Homo sapiens: one gene and its partners. The protein of the gene in region 3 purifies or fractionates together with the protein of the main gene of each other region. This does not show direct contact. Each region holds a gene or a part of one and is shown on either strand. Other genes may lie near its edges.

Evidence for each region.
Region 1: the proteins of CILK1 (region 3) and KATNIP purify together in Homo sapiens (affinity purification with mass spectrometry; 3 studies listed by BioGRID and IntAct, with this or other methods). This does not show direct contact.
Region 2: the proteins of CILK1 (region 3) and SMYD2 purify together in Homo sapiens (affinity purification with mass spectrometry; 2 studies listed by BioGRID and IntAct, with this or other methods). This does not show direct contact.

Annotation. Positions count from the first base shown.
Region 1 is NC_000016.10:27,552,923-27,560,227, reverse strand, and holds part of KATNIP (katanin-interacting protein), read right to left. Parts: intron 6,615-7,305; exon of another isoform or gene 6,595-6,614; intron 1-6,594. UniProt on the Homo sapiens protein: May influence the stability of microtubules (MT), possibly through interaction with the MT-severing katanin complex.
Region 2 is NC_000001.11:214,333,078-214,337,855, reverse strand, and holds the end of SMYD2 (N-lysine methyltransferase SMYD2), read right to left. Parts: intron 3,657-4,778; coding exon 3,548-3,656; intron 1,153-3,547; coding exon 1,072-1,152; 3' UTR 725-1,071; downstream 1-724. UniProt on the Homo sapiens protein: Protein-lysine N-methyltransferase that methylates both histones and non-histone proteins, including p53/TP53 and RB1. Specifically trimethylates histone H3 'Lys-4' (H3K4me3) in vivo. The activity requires interaction with HSP90alpha.
Region 3 is NC_000006.12:53,009,620-53,016,924, forward strand, and holds part of CILK1 (serine/threonine-protein kinase ICK), read right to left. Parts: intron 6,632-7,305; coding exon 6,464-6,631; intron 4,364-6,463; coding exon 4,043-4,363; coding exon of another isoform or gene 4,022-4,042; intron 2,609-4,021; coding exon 2,418-2,608; intron 2,299-2,417; coding exon 2,150-2,298; intron 1-2,149.

The DNA of each region.
Region 1 (7,305 bases), on a different chromosome or scaffold from region 3:
TCACTGCAACCTCTGCCTCCCAGGTTCAAGCGATTCTCCTGCCTCAGCCTCCTGAATAGCTGGGATTACAGGCACCCGCCACCACGCCCGGCTAATTTTTGTATTTTTAGTGGAGACGGGGTTTCACCATGTTGGCCAGGCTAGTCTTGAACTCCTGACCTCGTGATCTGCCCGCCTCAGTCTCCCAAAGTGTTGGGATTGCAGGCGTGAGCCACCACACCTGGATTTTTTATTTATTTATTTTTTTTATACAGAGTCTCGCTCTGTCGCCCAGGCTGGTGTGCAGTGGCGCGATCTAGGCTCACTGCAACCTTTGCCTCCTGGATTCAAATGATTCTCCCACCTCAGTCTCCCAGGAAGCTGGGATTATAGGCAGGTGCCACCATGCCTGGCTAATTTCTGTATTTTTACTAGAGACGGGGTTTCACCATGTTGGCCAGGCTGTTCTCAAACTTCTGACCTCAAGTGATCCGCCTGCCTCGGCCTCCCAAAGTGCTGAGATTATAGGTATGAGCCACCATGACCTTACTATTTTTTTTTTTTTTTTGAGACAGGGTCTTGCTCTGTTGCCCAGGCTAGAGTGCAGTGGCATGATCACAGCTCACTGTAGTCTCAACCTCCTGGGCTAAGGTGATCCCACCTCAGCCTCCCGAGTAGCTGAAACCACAGGCATGTGTCAACATGCCCAAATAATTTTTAACAATTTTTTGTAGAGGTGGGGTCTCACCGTGTTGCCCAGGCTGATCTCAAACTCCTGGGCTCAACTGATCCTCCTGCCTCAGCCTCCCAAAGTGCTAGGACTACAGGCATGAGCCACCATGCCTGGCCTGAAATCACTATTTTTGAATATGGAAAAACATATTGATAGACACTGTACAGCGCAGTGTAAAACCTCTGGGTGTGAGAGCAGGTAGGCAAGTGTCTAAAAAGATGAGACTGGAGGGGAGCTAATTCCCCAGAGAAATTCTATACTTCAAGGTGATATGATCCATAGGGCAATTGTTAAAGCTGCAAAGCCCCATGGGACATCAGTAGTCACACTTTCTTACTTTTACATAAAGTGCTCTGCAAACAGTTTCAAGTTCTTCCTTGCAACCAACCACATTGCTCTGCATTAGCCTACTCCCATTTGGAAAGAGAGAAGCAGTCATGGGACCAGATGCTGAGGGAGCTGGGAATGTAGTCAAAACGGGTACCTTTCAAAATGTATATTATTCCATCAGCCCAGTGGCCAGTTCTTCCCCACAGACTCACTCTCCAGGTGTGAGAACCTGGCCACACACTGGCAGTAACAAGGCTGAAATGGGCCTTCCATAACATACTACCAAGTGTAGACCTTATTCGACTGAGTCCTGGCTCTGCTACCTACTAGGTGTGTGGTATAAAACAGACACAATCACAGTATCCCATTGAGCTGTCTCAGGAATCAAATCAGATCTGCCACGGCAACAGTCAGCAAACGTTTCCTGTACAGGCCCAGATAGTAAATATTTTTGGCCCGTGGGCCACATAAGTCTCTTTTACAACTACTCAACTCTGCAAGAAAACAGCCATGGACTATATGTATGTGAAAGGGTGCTGCTGCATTCCAATAAAACTTTATTTACAATAGCAGGCAGTGGGCCACACTGCTTTGGGAAAGGGGAAGACCTCTACAAATATTATCTTCTAAGGACTCCCATGTTGAAATGTAGTCATCTGTTTATGTCTGCTTTCTCACCATACTATGAAGTTTCTAAAGGCAGATAATATATTCCCTTTTTTTCAGATTAAAACAAAAAGAAACTGGGCATGGTGACTCATGCCTGTAATCCCAGCATTTTGGGAGGCCAAGGCAGGCAGATCACTTGAGGTCAGGAGTTCGAAACCAGCCTGGCCAACATATGAAACCCCATCCCTACTAAAAATACAAAAATTAGCCAGGTGTGGTGGCACACACCTGTAATCCCAGCTACTTAGGAGGCTGAGGCAGGAGAATCACTGGAACCCAGGAGGCAGAGGCTGTAGTGAGCTGAGATCGCACCACTGCACTCCAGCCTGGGTGAGAGAACAAGACTCTATCTAAAAACAAAAAAACAAACAAAAAGAATAAGTATAGTCCAGTATGGCATACAAGGAAGTCCACAGGAGTTTTCACAACTGTACAAGTTAATACTAAAGTAGAATTCTAAGTACAAATGCTGACAGGCCTAGGAGTGACAGACACAATGAGAGAAGCCAGTCATTAGACAGGCCCACCTCCCTCTTAAAGGGCAAAGTCTCCACTTAACTCGGGTGGTGGGACAATTGTTGCCATGCAGAATTCTGATTTGGTGTTAACAGACTTTATTGATATTTTCAAGAAAATACCACAATCAGGTATTTATAAGAAATCTGCTCATTTTTCAATGTTGACAACTAATTCAAAAATTTAAAAAACAAAACATTATGAGCCAAATAAACATGCATGTGGGCTGTTTCAGCCCACTTGTGCAAGCTCTGATATAAAGAATTCATTTCCAGCCAGGCATAGTGGCTCATGCCTGTAATCTTAGCAACTTGGGAGGCCAAGGTGGGAGGATCACTTGAGCTCAGGAGATGGAGACCAGCCTGGACAACATAGCAAGACCCCCATCTCCACAAAAAATAAAAAATTAGCTGGGCATGGTGGCACACACCTGTAGTCCCAGCTACTTGGACAGCTGACATGGGACGATCGCTTGAGCCAGGAGATGGACGCACCAGTGAGTTATCTCACCATTGCACTCCAGCCTGGGCAACAGAGCAAGACTCTGTCTCAAAAAAAAAAAAAAAAAAATCCACACCTGTAACCGTAGCACTTTAGGAGGCCAAGGGGTAGGGTTGGATCACCTAAGGTCAGGAGTTCGAGACCAGCCTGGGCAACATGGTGAAACCCCGTCTGTACTAAAAATGCAAAAATTAGTTGGGCGTGGTGGCATGTGCCTGTAATCCCAGCTACCCAGGAGGCTGAGGCAGCAGAATCACTGGAACTCGGGAGGCGGAGGATGCAGTAAGCCAAGATCGCGCCACTGTACTCCAGCCTGGGCTACAAAGTGAGACTCCACCTCAAAAAAAAAAAAAAAAATCAACTTCACAGAAAAATGTCAAGAATAGTACAATGAATTCCCATATCGCCTTCACCTGGATTCAATCTTACTCATTTTGGCATCTCTGAATTCCAATGCACGGAAGGCACTGAAATGTTGAATCATGGAATGAATCTCATAAGGAAAAATAAGCAAAACATTATGGGCCGACTTCCTATAAGTTAAAGTGACAGGAGGAACGAACTCTGAAAAAATCTGAGAGAAAAGAAACTAATCAGATAGAAGGATTGGAACAAGAAGAAAACAGAACAGACACAAAGAGTCTATGGGATGTATGTTTATTTCACCTGCTGAATGCTTGCTTTGTTTTATTGCATTTGATTGTTATTTTATTATTTTTTTTGCTGGGTTTAAGTAGTAAGAGAAACAGACAAATCACCAAGAAGCCAGGTAAATACCACACAAGGACAGGAGAGACCAGCTAAACCGATGGTGTACTCTCAGCAAAACCTTCCTAATTCAACCATCACCTGTTTGCAGTCTGGGATTATTTGGACAAGTGAGGCTAAATATCATCTTGGCATTATTAATTATTTGAGAAAGTTTGCTAAGCAAATGAACAGTATAAACAAGGGAAATGTTGAATATTTGCTCTAGGGGAGCAGTGAAAAGCAAATGAACAACTTCCAAATCCTTTCTAATTATATCAATGTGCTGAACTTTTGTCTAATTATTATGTTCCTTGAAAATGAAATAGAATTTTTTTTCCTAAACCATTTCATATTTTTAAAGTACTGGGGAAAATTCAACTTTAACAGAAAGGCGAACATTTTCATAGGCAGAAAACACACACTGCCAATGTACCTTCATGGAATAAAAAATGTCAAACATTGGATTTTCTCTTAAGCAAAGAGTGTGCTAATTACAAAAGTTATCATCTGCTAGAGAGCTTCATCAGCACGCTTCCCTCTTCTGTCAACTGTGTGGAATAAGTCTGCCTATTTGCAGATAATGATAACAACAGCTACTATATAGGAACTTTTTTTTTTTTTTTGAGACAGAGTCTCACTCACTGGCCCAGGCTAGAGTGCGGTGGTGCAATCTCAGCTCACTGCAACCTCCGCCTCCCAGGTTCAAGCAATTCTCTGCCTCAGCCTCCCGAGTATCTGGGATTACAGGCACCCGCCACCACACCTGGCTAATTTTTGTATTTTTAGTAGAGACAGGATTTCACCATCTTGGCCAGGCTGGTCTTGAACTCCTGACCTCGTGATCCACCCATCTCAGCCTCCCAAAGTCAGGCATGAGCCACCGCGCCTGGCTGTAGGAACTTTTTTTTTTTTTGAGACGGAGTTTCGCTCTTGTTGCCCAGGCTGGAGTGCAATGGCGCAATCTCGGCTCACCACAACCTCTGCCTCCCAGATTCAAGCGATTCTCCTGCCTCAGCCCCCCAAGTGGCTGGGATTACAGGCATGCACCATCACACCCAGCTAATTTTGCATTTTTTTAGTAGAGACAGGGTTTCTCCATGTTGGTCAGGCTGGTCTCGAACTTCTGATCTCAGGTGATCTGCCTGCCTCGGCCTTCCAAAGTACTGGGATTACAGGCGTGAGCCACCGCGCCCAGCCAGGAACATTTTTTTATATGCCAGACTTGATGCATTGTTTCATTGAAGCCACAAAACAAGGTAGGCTTCATTATCATGTCCATTTTACTGACAGGAAAACCAAGGCTCAGAGAGGTCAAAGTGTACAGCAGAGATTCAAATCCAGGGCTATCTGGCCCCCAAACCTAAGGACATTACACTGCATCACAGAAACAGATAGGACCTGCCCAAAGTCAAAATCAAAAGGCCAGGGAAAGGGTTGTGAAAAGCTATGGTGATTAAGACATGCCGAATAAACTAAATTACAGTCCAGTTTGGAGGGCATCTGCTAGACATTTAAGCTTTTGTGAACGTAGGAAGTAAACATCTTTCTAATAAGGCCAGGCTTGGCTTACCTAGTTAGTTAGAATCACAATAAGGTATGCTTCACTTTATCCAATAAATAGGTATGTGCCTATAAAATTATGTATAAATCAGGGCCAGGTGCGGTGGCTCATGGCTATAATCCCAGCACTTTGGGAGGCTGAGGCAGGTGGATAACCTGAGGTCAGGAGTTCGAGACCAGCCTGACCAACATGGTGAAACCCCATCTCTACTAACAAAAAACAAAAAAGTTAGCCAGGCGTGGTGGCGTGCACCTGTAATCCCAGCTACTCAGGAGGCTGAGGCAAGAGAATCGCTTGAACCTGGGAGGCAGAGGTTGCAGTGAGCCAAGATCACGCCACTGTACTACAGCCTGGGTGACAGGGCGAGACTCTGTCTCAAAAAAAAAAAAAAAAAAAAAAGTGTAAATCAAAGTTTAAAAAATCAGAACAGAAAATGGGATTCTTTGGAGGTCAAATATGACCCTAGGGTAAACACTTCTGAGAATAAATTTTTCCTTTTGGGGGCCAATCTGAAAATGAACATACCCCTCTACTAGGCTACAATAACGTCCTAAGACTGCAAGTACAGAGATGCTCATTAGAAGGCACAAAGCAGCCTTCCTGAAAATGGACTGTAGCAATGTTTCTCAAAGGTGCAGATCCTGGGAGAAGGAGGGGTCCACAAAGACAAAAGTATTTTAATCATAATTTGAAGAGTATTTCACTGTGTTGAATTTTTTTTCTTTTGAGACAGTCTCACTCTGTTGCCCAGGCTGCAATACAGTGGCATGATCTTGGCTCACTGCAACCTCTGCCTCCTGGGTTCAAGCGATTCTCTTGCCTCAGCCTCCCCCAAGTAGCTGGGACCACAGTTATGTGCCACCATGCCCAGCTAATTTTTGTATTTTTAGTAGAGACAGGGTTTCACCATGTTGGCCAGGCTAGTCTCAAACTCCCGACCTCAGGTGATCGCCCACCTTGGCCTCTCAAAGTGCTGGGATTACAGGCGTGAGCCACCCCATCTGGCTGTGTTGACATTTGTACTTATGACACAAAGCAATGGTGGGTAAAACTGCTTGCAGTCTGAATCAAGGCAATGTTACCACAATGTACTAGAAACCTTCCCTCCTTCCTTCCTCCCTCCCTTCTTCCATCCCTCCCTTCTTTCCTCCTTCCTTTCTCTCTCCTCTCCCTCCCTTCTTTCCTTCCTTCCTTTCTCTCTCCTCTCTCCCCCCACCCCACCCCCTGCTCTCTCTCTCTCTAGACAAGGTCTTTTTGCCCAGGCTGGAGTGCAGTGGCACAGTCATGGCTCACTGTAGCCTCAACCTCCTAAGCTCAACTGATCCTGAGTGGCTGGGACTACAGGCACGAGCCACTATACCTGTCTAATTTTTTACTTTTTACAGAGATGGGGTCTCACTAAGTTGCCCAGGCTGGTCTTGACCTCCTGGGCTCAAGTGATCCCCACACCTCAGTCTCCTTAGCAGCTAGAACCACAGGTGCATGCTACCATGCCTGACTATTATTTATTTATTTATTTATTTTATTTATTTATTTAGTAGAGATGGAGTCTCACTATGTTGACGAAGCTGGTCTTGAATTTCTGGGCTGAAGAGATCCTCTTGTCTTGGCCTCCCAAAGCGGTGGGACTATAGGCGTGAGCCACTGAACCCAACCATCAGGACATTCTTAAATAAAAATAATTGTTTGTTTGTTTTAAATGTGAGTACATGGCAGTAAATAAAATAATAGACAAATTTTGGTTATTCAGTCTTGGGAATTTGGCAGAAATTTTCTCAAATATGAAATAAGTGAGTCTGTCACTTCAAGGAAACAGCTGACAATATTTGCTGCCAATGTTAAAATTCAAGCTGTCAAGTGAAAACAAGTTGAAAACTTGTTTCCATTACCTTGAGTTTGATAGTTTCCTAATACTTAAACTCCTTTTTAAAATGAAATAGGTGGTGATATTAACAAATGTGATTTTTTAAATACCGTATAATGGCATCTGAAAGGTCAACGTTTAGATTTGCATAACTCACTGAACCAACATTTTCTAAACGACCAATGGCTGATGTTATAAAACCATATATGGGTAAAGCAGCCAATGAAAGGGCAAGATAGACCAATGGATTTTAATGTAACACAGTATAAAAGTTCACCTATAAGGCTTCAGATGACACACTGTGACTAACATTTAAGAAACTGCCACTTGTGGCCTGGCATGGTTCTTCATGCCTGTAATCCCAGCACTTTGGGAGGCCAAGGCGGGCGGATCACCTGAGGT
Region 2 (4,778 bases), on a different chromosome or scaffold from region 3:
CAACAGGCTTTACTTATTAACCAGTGGGGAAGTTCCTCTCTTTCGACTACAAGACGCTTTTCTAAGAGTAACACCCCTGCACTCAGGAACGTGTGCTGCGTCCTTCTGTGCAATGGTTGCTAACAAACAACTCCCCAGGTTGCTGCTGTCTAGGCTGTGGGGCTGCAGAAAGCTGGATTCCTGTTGTCTGTGTGGGTAGAGATCAGTGTTTACTCAACAACACAGCGTTGGTTGGTAAGGAAAAACATTTTTTTCCTTCCCAAGCATACCCTGGAGTTTTTCCAAAAAGGAGAGTACTGCACAGAACAATCAACAGAATGAGAGATGGCAAGTCTGCTTTCAGACAGATGGGGACAGAAAAGCCAAGAAAGCAAAGCACGCACTAAGCACCTTTACACACTGAAGGAATACCAGGCACCAGAGAACAGATTCAAAACCTCGCCTGCTGGAGGGCACTTGGGTCACTGGACTGTTCCTCCACCACAGATAGATGATAGTTTTCTTTCCTTCGTGTACCTTTTTCTCTTTCTTCCCATTTTCTTCCTCCACAGGCACAGCCCCACAAGAGCAACTGCAGAATAAAGAGGCTGCCCGACCCCAGTCCCATGGAGAAGACTTGAGCTTGCTGAATTATGGACAGCAGGTGTCACTTTCACTCCAAGACTGGGCTCCCACCACCACTGAGAAATCCTCCCCAGAGACAGAAGAAAATACAAACCTCAAATACTGATATCTCTTTAATACTTTCATCATTCAAGTTTGTTCAGAACATTACAAGAGGCATGAAAGAAAAAATAATTCCATTTTTAAAACTCTGTCTGTCCAAAGTATAACATATGAAACCATGCCATTATCTCTTAGGAAACAAAAGCATTCAAAATTAATTTGGTATTAAAGTTCAAGATTCAGACTAACCTCAAAGTACGGCATGTGCAGTGTTTAAGTGCAAGAAGTATTTTCATTCCAATTATTTTACAGAGATGCTGGAGTGACGTGTGCAATTTGAAATATTCAAATCCTTTAAGGTTTCTGAACTAAGTGTTTAAATGAAAACTGAAATGCTGCATAGTTTCAGTGGCTTTCAATTTCCTGTTTGATCTCAGAAATATATGGATGATCTTTGCCGTGAGCTACTTCCATGATTGCAATGGCCTAGGAAAAAGCAAGACAAACAATGAGAGCCTAGAAGCCAATCTCCTCACACCTCCACCCAGGGTAACTTTAAGTTGGATCTCTCTGCTTTAAGGCACAGGATGCAAACTGGCCATTAGAGCCTATGTTCTCCACCAGGACCTGTTTTTATTTTAATTTATTTATTTATTTTGAGACGGAGTCTCGCTCTGTCGCCCAGGCTGGAGTGCAGTGGTGCGATCTCCGCTCACTGCAAGCTCCGCATCCCGGGTTCACGCCATTCTCCTGCCTCAGCTTCCCGAGTAGCTGGGACCACAGGCGCCCACCACCATGCCTGGCTAATTTTTTGTATTTTTAGTAGACACGGGGTTTCACTGTGTTAGCCAGGATGGTCTCGATCTCCTGACCTCGTGATCCGCCCGCCTTGGCCTCTCAAAGTGCTGGGATTACAGGCATGAGCCACCGTGCCTGGCCTTGGTTTTTTTTTAAAAAAGGAGAAGACCATCTGGTAGCTAACTCATCCAGTGTCTACTGCTAGGTAAAACATTCTGCAAAAATATCCAGCTGGAGAAACGATGTCATGAAACTGATTTCATGACATTCTCTTGCCCCAAGATTCTAGATCTTTCAGTAAAACATGCTTTAAGGACTAATTTTTTTGATTATGTTCAACCCAGAAAATAGGTGATGCTGGTAAAGTCCATAGTGAATTTTATATCAAAGCTATTTTGATTTTTAGTTGACATTACTAACCTGCAAGACGTAGCTAAACTATTTTTCCCTTTCGAAAAGCATACTCTTTCCTTTTAATACATATTCTAAAAACTTAAAAGAAAGGTAGCAGGTTTCATTGAGGGATGCTAGAGAATGTACTTAAGGTTTCTTTATAGTGAGGCAATGTAACATGGTCAAGTTTCCAGTGGTTTAATCATTTCCTAGCTGTGTGGCCTTGGGTAATTTACTTAACCACTCTGTGCCTCATTTTCCTGAACTGTAAAACTGGAATAATACCTACCTCTCAGGGTTGTTAATTCAGATACAGTGTTTCGAACAGCGCCTGGCATACAGGAAGTTTATATCAAATGTCATCTCTAAGAATGTATTTGCTCTTTTGTATTCAGCCAAATTACTCAGAGAAAAAAGTATTCCCCCAGAGAATTTTTAATGGCCTGTGACTATGACAGGCATTCCTATCTATTATATATTCTCCTCCTAGATCTCAAGCCAAGAGGAGGCAGGCCAAGTAACAGTGCAAGCCTTCGGAAATCACCTGTTCCAGGTGCCGACTCTGCCCAGGCATTCATTTCAAGACTCATGTTCCTTGCTCAGATCTGCTCCAGCTTTCATTGATCTATTACTTAATCACCTGACACACTTTGCAGTTGTGACCCAAATGGCTAATTCTCAGAAGACAAATTCCATGGTTTAAAACAGAAAATTTTGTTCTGTGCTCCCTTCCAGCCTGGCTGTGCCCTGACCCTTCTATTTGGGATGTGGGCCTTATTCCATCTTCGCAAATAGTCTATTGGGAAACTTTGGAGAAGGTGAAAGATTAGGCCTGCAGGCCCTGTCCATGGCCCCAGCATTTTATAAAGTTTCTTACAGGAGTAAATGGACTATCCCCTAAATTACACTGTATTGACTGTGAATTCCACATCACAAACAATGAGAATCAATACTCAGGATGATGACTCTGACCTCCCATGATGTGAGGGTCGGGGCCTGGCTCCTGGGCAGCACAGGGCCGCCATCAAACCAAAGGCGAATGCTGCCCAGGGTTCTGGCTCCCCACCAGTTTCATCACAGCTTGAGTGGGAGGAGCCGAAGCTTTCAATTTAGACCCTCATTTGAATGAAGGCCCCACCATGTACCCTAGGCTATTACTCACTTAAACCTGCTTGAACCTCACTTTCTTCATCAGGAAAGCCTCTCGGTTTTGTGAGAATTCAAAGGAAAAGCACACGAGGGTCTTGGTATGTAACTGGTCCTCAATGAACTGAGAGGATGATTAAGTGCATTTTAGAAACAGCAAATGCGCAATTCTAACATCCTAACCCTAACTCTCCATATCCTACCTCCTTGATTTCACAACTGGGGATCATCATTCTGAAAATCCCAAAGGTCAAACAAATGGAGAATTCCTCCAGGCACAGGCTGGGCCTGTGATCACGGCCAGCCCTCTGGATGTGGGCACCCATTCCCTTTGAGGGAGGCCTGGACACAAACACAGCAGAGGTGCACTCTCTCACTCCCCCCTCACCTGCAGGACCCACCCCCGCTGCTCCCACGGCAAGAGGGTGGGTGAGAGCTGCTCACCCTCCACTGCTTCAGCCATTCAGCCTGGTGAGGCATGAAGGAGGTGCGCTAAGGAGGCCATCTGGCCACTGGGAATCCTAAGGCCGAGTTACAGACATACCTTCTTCAGGGCTTTCTCCCCTGCGGCTTTGTGTTCCAGGCCCATGTAGAGTCTCCCTAGCTTCAACCACATGGAGGCCACGTTGAGGGAGTACAAAGGATAGTGCTTACTAGAACAAGAGAAGAGACAACAGGCCACCATGTCAGCGGCTACTGAGCCGCCCCACAGGCTGGGTGCAGTAAGCCGGAGGCTGCCATGCTTAGGGCCAACCTCTGCCCACCAGCGGCCTCTCCAAATCCCACCAGGGTTTGGGTGGAGAGCGTGGATGCTGCCACCCTGCCGAATCATTGCAGATGTTGTTCATTATTTGTAGTTTGTGTGTTTCTGAAAAGCTACGTAACAACTGCAGGAGAAATCCTATTCAAAAGCATTTGTAAACACAATCTTCAATCCCAGTCCAGATTTTTATATTTCAGACATACCCAGAGGAAGACCCTGGGAAAACAGCTTGTGAAGTAAATGTCCCATTTATGAAGGCAGCAATTAGGCCTATCACCTTAGGTACTCAGACATACAGCCACCCACCCAACCCCCACCCACCCCAATGTGTCTTAAGACCCCAGCTTTCTGTCACACTATGATATGGGTTGGTTTAGCAAAACAGTTAAGTGCTCTGAAGTCAGAACACTTCCTGTGTCTTCTGGATGTTCTTTCCCCATTGTCCAGCAGGGGCTTTAGATACAGCAAGTGTTCTCTCCGGCTGTACCTGAAGACTGACTGATGGGGTCTGCCTGGGAAACAGCCATTTCCCTAAGAACAGGGCCCAGAGGCAGCTGGTGGGTGAGCCAGTGTGTGTGTTTACATGTGTGTAAGAGGTGTTTATTTAAAGGCTAGGCTGTTCCACCCTGTGTCTCCTGAAAGTCAGTCCAAAAAGACATGTTCTAGCTGTATTCCTGGGTAGGAGGCAGCCCTGGGACCCACGGCCCCACAGAAGACCAGAGCTGGGCTTCCGGGAGGGGCTCACGCAGATAAAGATGGGTCTAGCAGAGCAAGGCCCTGCTGGGAGAACCACAGGGCTGGGATGCTGTCTGTCTGCTCCTCTCTCCCTACAGATCTCACACAGAGAACTGCGCATGAGGCCAGTGCACTTCCTCACACACTCTAGGAGAAAAGGAAGGTTTGAGTTTATCCCCAATTTAACAAATTCTGTTTCCAAGAGCAGATTTTAAGAGCTGGCTTCCTTTGGGCTCCCCCTGCTGGCTAATCAGGGCACAGTGGGGTAAGTAGAGGG
Region 3 (7,305 bases):
TAGACTACAAAGATAAAATTAATGCAGAACTCAATTTGTCAAAAACTCTCTATGATACAATAATCAAAGCAAAAACTGACTGTGATGATGTCATCTGACAGATGTCCGAGGAAAGATATCTCACTGGTTGGTGGCCCGAGAGAGGCCTCTTATGCTTCTAAGATCCAATGGATCTGTCCCACCTCTTGGCCCTCTGGTGCCATCCTGGGCTTCACTGCTGCTGGACATGCTGTTCTTCCCCTTCACAGACTACTTCCTTTCAGTCACCTTTTCAGTTTCTTCTCCATCCCCCACCCATGGCCTCCAACTCTGCAGCCCTCTGCTCTCCTCTCTCTGTCTTGTCTCCAGAGTTCCATCTTCTCACCCGACCTGGACCATTACTCCCATTCCCACAGGCACTGCAGCTTTTTTTCAGAACTGAAAGTTTAAATTCCCCCTTTATCCTTCTCCTTCTTCCCCTACAACCAAAAAGAAATAAAATAGCTCTCTGATTCACTCCCTGCTCCTTTTTGCCTGTGGTCACTGTAATTCGAGGCTTGGCCACTCATACTGGATCACTCTATACCTGTCATCTGGATCTCTCTTCTTCCAGATCATCCTGGGGCCTGTCAGGCCAATCTTCTAAGAACAAAATGTCAATCCTGATGAAGTCTAGCAATATTTAGAAGCCACATTCCAAACCAGAGGGTGAGGAATTTCATGCATCAAGAGGGCCTGCCATTCTCACCCCATTCCTCCCTTCTGACTCCAGCTCAGCCTGTGCCGCCATCTCCCTCACCTGGATGACAGCTACAGCTTGCTGGCCCCTCCCCTACTCAGCACACAGGTGTTGATACAACCACATCACTCCTTCAGTTAAAACCCTTCAGGGACTTCTCATCGCTCATGAAGCAAAATCCAAATTTCTTACAAGGCCCCAAAAATGCCTCATACTACACATTACGTCACCTCCTTTCTCACTATGCTCTGGCCACACTGGCTTCTGCCATTCCTCTCACAGGACAAGCCCTCTCCTGCCTCTAGACCTTTGCACTTGCTGTTTCCTCTCTCCCTGGTGTGCTCTGCCCTCAGCTCTCTGCACATTTGGTTCCTTCTCATTCTTTGGGGCCCAGTCAAGTTGCTTATTCAGAGAGGCCTTACCTGACCATTCTTTTACAATCTGTGATTACTATTTGTCTATTTGTTAAAGTCTCTCTCCCACCACTAGCAGATAAGCTGTGTGAGGGTGAGGATGTTGTTTGCAAAGCTGCTGTATAAAGCTGCTGTATAAAGCCACTGTGTAGACTACAGTGTGAAGGAATTCCCCAGGGTTGTGTGACCCAGTGGCCCTGCCTGGCTGTTTTGTTCACAATAATATTCGCAGTGCTTGGCATGCAGTAGATGCTTGATACATATGTACTGAATGAATGATTCACTAATGCTGTAAGTTTGGAATATAGAAAATCAGGAGAGAGGCTTGGATACCCACCAAACTATAGCATTGACATTTAACCCCCATAGTACTGCCAGGACAGTGTGACTAAGCTCCTACCCTGGTTTCCCTATTGGCCATTTCCCCTAAACCTGGTCTGGTAGAGGGGCCTCAGACATGCCGCCCAGCTTTTGCCAGTTCCTCCCTCCCTGGAGGCTGGACCCAGTTTCCTATACCATATTTCTTATCTTGGGTGACTATAAAAGATAAAAATGTGAGGCCTGGGCCCAGGCACGGTGGCTCATGCCTGTAATTCCAGCACTTTGGGAGGCCGAGGCTGGTGGATCATTTGAGATCAGGAGTTCAAGACCAGCCTGGCCAATATGGTGAAACCCTGTCTCTACTAAAAAATACAAAAATTAGCCAGGCATGGTGGTGGGCACCTGTAGTCCCAGCTACTCAGAAGGCTGAGTCAGGAGAATCGCTTGAACCCAGGAGGTGGAGGCTACAGTGAGCCAAGATGGCGCCATTGCACTCCAGCCTGGGTGGCAGAGAGAGACTCCAACTCAAAAAAAAAGTGAGGCTTGGGCTTCAGCAAATATTTCTATGATGTTCCCCTCAGTTCTGAAGGGAAGCCCCCTAGTATCTGCCTTCTAAAACAGAACCTTTGTGAATATGTGATTCCAAGGACAGGGTTTCTTATTAATAATCAAAGTAAAGCCAAGTCATTTATATTACCAGGCAAGTATCGAGAGTGCTTCAAATAGTGCTGCTTGGCTGCAGATCTCAGGGTGGGCGTGTCTCGCCGCTGATATGACGTCTGGGTGGGGGCACTGTTTCCTGTGCCCACAGGCTCAGAGGGCTTCAGGTCCAAAACACTCTCAAACCTGAATGAAGAGAGCATGGCTTGGGTCAGCACGAGAGACAGTATGTATTCTCGGATATGTACCCATAATCTCATGAATTCCAGATTCAGTCTGTTTACAAATGTGAGCAGCACACTTGCCTGCAGAGAGTGTCATCACTCTGTCTTTTCTTGTTTTTCAGGTCAATCCTGCTGAGGGATGGACTGAAATCCAAGTCATCCAAGTCAGCCCAATCATCTGAATCCTTTGTTGACCTGGAAATAAGACCCCACCTTCTCCTACTCTTTGGCTTTATCTCACCATTTTTGTGCTCCAGGCCAGCTGTGATTTTCTGTGTAAACAAACGGGGTGGGGGAAAGCAATACTTGGCATTAACAGAACTCATCCATGAGTAATCTCCATCTGAACTTTCTCTGCTATGCAAAGGAGGCTCCTGGGGCATAACATTGCTTATCTGAAGGGGCAACTGTAGAAAACACATTCCCAATCTTTCTGTCTCACTCATCCTTCACAGATTGTATCAGCTGCCATCCATTGATGATGTTAAAGTTGTATAAAATAAGGATAAAAAAATTTTTAAGATACTTCTTACACACCAGGAAGATGGCTAAATTCATACTCAGTCTCATCCTAGATGAGTTAATATGATCTCTGTTATAAATATGGATGTAAGAAATTAAGGCTAAGATGTCAGTTAGCCTGTCCTTTTACAGAAATCAATGCAAATAATGCTTTTTTTTGCCTTCTCAGTATATATAGTTACTATCTCTTAGCTATAAAGAATTAGCTACAACAGGACATTTCCATACACATACCACTTCTAAATTGTGTGCTGCAATAAAGTGACTAGGCCAGAGATACCACCCTTGCATCTCACATTGTGGTGGTTGGGAGCCAGCAGTCAGCAAATACTAACTGACACAGAAAGTGCCACTTTTTCATAAAGGATAGACAGTTGGCCTCTTCAGACAGCACTGCAAAGCTAATAAAAAATAGAACCCCTTGTCAGGTTATTATTTTACTAAATCTAACACTCATTTTTTTCTTTTGAAAAGCAGCCAAAGAGGAGCAGAAAGATCTGGGCTCAGTTAATAGCCCAGCATTAACATATTGAATAACAGCAGTAATGTGGATAACAATCTACAAATATTAACACAGCGCTTTATGCTTTTCAAAATATCTTAAAAACATCATGGCCTTTGATCCTCATGAACAACCCTGTCTGGTAGGTAAGACATGCACTATAATCTTCCTTTGATAAATGAGGAAACTGAATCCATAGGGATTAATAACAATTACTGACCTTTACAGAGTTGTAACTAGGTGCCAGGTATTATTCTAAATTCTTTTCAAGTATTAACTCATTAGTCCTCAAAGCAATTGTATCAGGTAAGTACTATTATTATCCTTATTTTACAGATGAGGAAAATGAGGAGCAGAGAAGCCAGATAACTTGCATAGGTATCAAGCTACTAAACAGCAGAGCTGAGATTTGAGCCCCTGGCAGTCTGGCTGCAGAGGCCAGCTCCCAGCCACTACCCTATAGCTGCCTCCATTAGTGACAACGGTTTTAACAGGCACAGCCAGAACTTGAATTTAGATCTTTCACTCCAAAGCCAAGGGTCTTTACAATTCCATGCTGTTGCAAACATAAATCTACCATAACTGGACCCTGTATACTGAAAAAGAAAATATTTCACACAATAATGGGGTCAGAAGAGGAATAAACAGACACGAAGCTCACTGGTGAATCTGGGCTGCTCACCGACTGTGGATGCTTGTTGTGGAGGGATGGGAAAAGCAACGGGCTTGGCTTGTCCTCCTGGAGATGGCTTGGGTGATCTGTCCTGGAGACCTCTGCTTTGTAGGGGTACGTGAGATGCAGAGGGGGCTGGCTGGCTTGATGCTGTCGTGAAGAAATTCGTGTGTGTGGCTTGGCTGGTGGCTGGGCAGGTGGGACTGGCTTAATATAAGGAGGTGGGCCTGCCTTTTCCAGGATGCCTTTCTGTGGTTTTTCTGAATCCTGAAGGTTTTGTGTGGTGCTGCCTAGTGGGTGTCCAACTTGGAAGTAAGGATATCGAAGTGCCTGGAATGACAAATAAGGCTTTAGGAGAAAAGTCTAGCCAGGAAAGTTACCACTGTCTTGATTACTGGGCTATATTTCATTGTGACCAGTTTACTACTGTTTCTTAGCCCAATTAGAAAACAGTACCTTGAATTTTTAACACCCCTTGTGATTTTTCTTATCTAAGATACCATAAAATATATGTAATGATTGCAACACAAAGTTATTTATATATAGTAGCCAGTTACACTGCTGTTACCCTGGCTACTTCTAAAAAGCATTCTGGATCAACACAGATCCTGGTTTTGTAACTTATTTGCTATGTGTCTTAAATAGAGTATTTCATCCTTCCAAGCCTATTTCCTCATTCCACAGAAGAAGAAAAAAATAATACAAAACTGAAAGAGCCAAACATAATGATCCTGGAAGACTCTGAAGAATTGAGTACAAAATAAGCAGGCACATATGCTTTTATCCCAAAAGTGCCAAGAGTGTAATACATGATATAGTTAACCCTTCCCTATCAAGAACAAAACCGTGTCAGTTGTTCTGGATAACTGAGTTTTCTGGATAGCCAAGAGATAACTTAAAGTTTAGGGGGTTACAATTCTTTCTGAAATATTTCCTATATTCTCTTGTCTTTCTGAATGAAAGTTATTAAGCATAACATAATCTTTCTGAGTAGGCCTGGGACAGTTATAAACATCTGTAATGATTATATGCAAGTGTAGATACAGAGGCAATTAATGGGAATAGCCTGGTAGAGGTCCCAGACTCTAGCATCTATTATAACTTGAAAGCCTTCTCTGTAGTCACAGACATTTTTGCAAGTCTTAACTGATTTGGGGGGTATTTTTAGCTTTTCACACTATTCTTAAAAGCATACATTCCTCTCTTGCTTCCTTGTTACAGAATCTTTTTCTTTCCATTTCTTACATGCATCTGTTAAAAAACTGGGTTCATCCAAAAGCTTCTTTTCTGCCCTGCAGCCATTTGTGAATTTCACCACCAGAACTGCATTCCTGAGAGCTTTCCAGCCCTTGAGCCATCCAAAGTCTTACGGCACCAAATTGTAGTTCTTTTTTCCTTGAGCTTTCAGAAAATTGCTTTTCTACACTCCTTAATTATTCCTCCAACTATCATCTCCCCAGCTATCACAAATTCTACCACCACATTGGCACTTTTCTTCAAATATCCTCATCACTCTTCTTCTGAACATCTTCTCTGATTAGAATTGGTCACTTATATGATCCTCTGAGCAATGTAATTGTCAGTGAGACAAGTTGAGAAGGGGCCAGATGTAACTACCACAAAAGGAGGCTTGCAAGATGCCTGTGAGTGATAAGAGCCCCCAGCGTTACCATACCTCTTTTGGGTATATTTCATTATTTAAGTCTAAGTGGCCCATGGGAGGATGGATTGGGAAAGGAGCTATGAAACCAGTGGACCTGACTTCATACTTCCGGTCAGTTGGTTGAATTGTAGTTAGTTGCACTATTTGAACTAATTAATGGATGAGTGATTAGAGCAAATTGCTTAAACTTTCCAAGATTGAGTTTTCTCACTCACAGAATTGAAAACAATAATGCCTGTCTCATGGAGTCTTTATTGGATTAAAAATCATATAAAATATATTCAAGCATTTGCACACTGTAAAGTGCTATGAAATACTAAGTGCAGTTACTATCCTAGGTCTATCTCATCTGTCAATCTCTTCAGGTTATGAGTCAGTTGGACTTTTACATAATATGAAGTTGCCTTTCAACAACCAGTACCGGCTTATAAACAAACTACTATATAATTGTAACTCATAGAGAATAGATTTGAAAACATTCTCCAAAGACAGATAAATATATGTTTATTTCCATTTCCATATAAATGGTGATATATCATGTGAATTACATGCCAATTTTCAAAGCAACTATATTGTTTACATTGTAACTACTTTATACCCAGTAAGTTTCAAACTATTTTAAGTTCTCATACCTTATATAGTACACCATTAGTGGTATTCTGTACTATTTCTCACCCATAATACTAAATACTAAATATTTCCTGTGCAATTCATAGAAATTATTCAGAGTTAGATATGAACGTTATAACAAGAAAATGGAAGAAAACCTGACTAGCTGTTGGTCGTTTCTTGGGATCCCACTGAAGCATGTCTCTCAGGAGCTGGACTGCTTCACTGCTAGCATTGGGAATCAAGGTCTTTAAGTTATTGGGTACACACTGTGGCCAACGGAAGTTCATTGCACTTGAAAGTTGATAGCCTTCAGGCCAGTCAGTCTGAAAGAAGGAAAAGATAGAAAATCTTGCTCAGCCAATTGCTGTGATATAAGTTTGTATTCTGGCATGTGTGCCCCAAATGGAAAGGCAACCATGTCATTACCCACCCACATTCATTAACCACCCACATTCACTACTGTGGCACTGTATGGAATGAGACATAGATTTAGATTAATAGAGAGACCACCAAGACCATGAAATCTGGGGGAATAGTGGAAAAGACACTGGATTTGCCAACTTAATTATCTTTACATAAGAGATTCTCTTGAGATTTTGGGATTGAAACAAATTAATATTTCCCCAACTGTGTTCCATGAGACAGAGGTTCTGAAAACTGCCAATGAGATATTCTTTTGGGGAAAACAAAATAAAACAAAACATTTTGTTCCTGGACAAATAAATTTGTGAAACTCTACCTACAGTATCTTCAACTTGGTGATTGAAAGTATACATGTGGAGAAAACCAGCAGTAAAGAAAGGTGTTTCACCCAGTCTCAAGCTTTCCACTTTTTCATGCATCATTTCTATGGGACACTAAATGCTGGAGGGAATGATGGAAAATGCTAAAGAAATGGTCTTTAAGGTTCCTTCTAGTTCTAACACTCTACTATTTTATAACATACAGCCTAAGGTAATTGTTCCTCCACTCCTTTTTAAAGCCAAGTGGCAATACA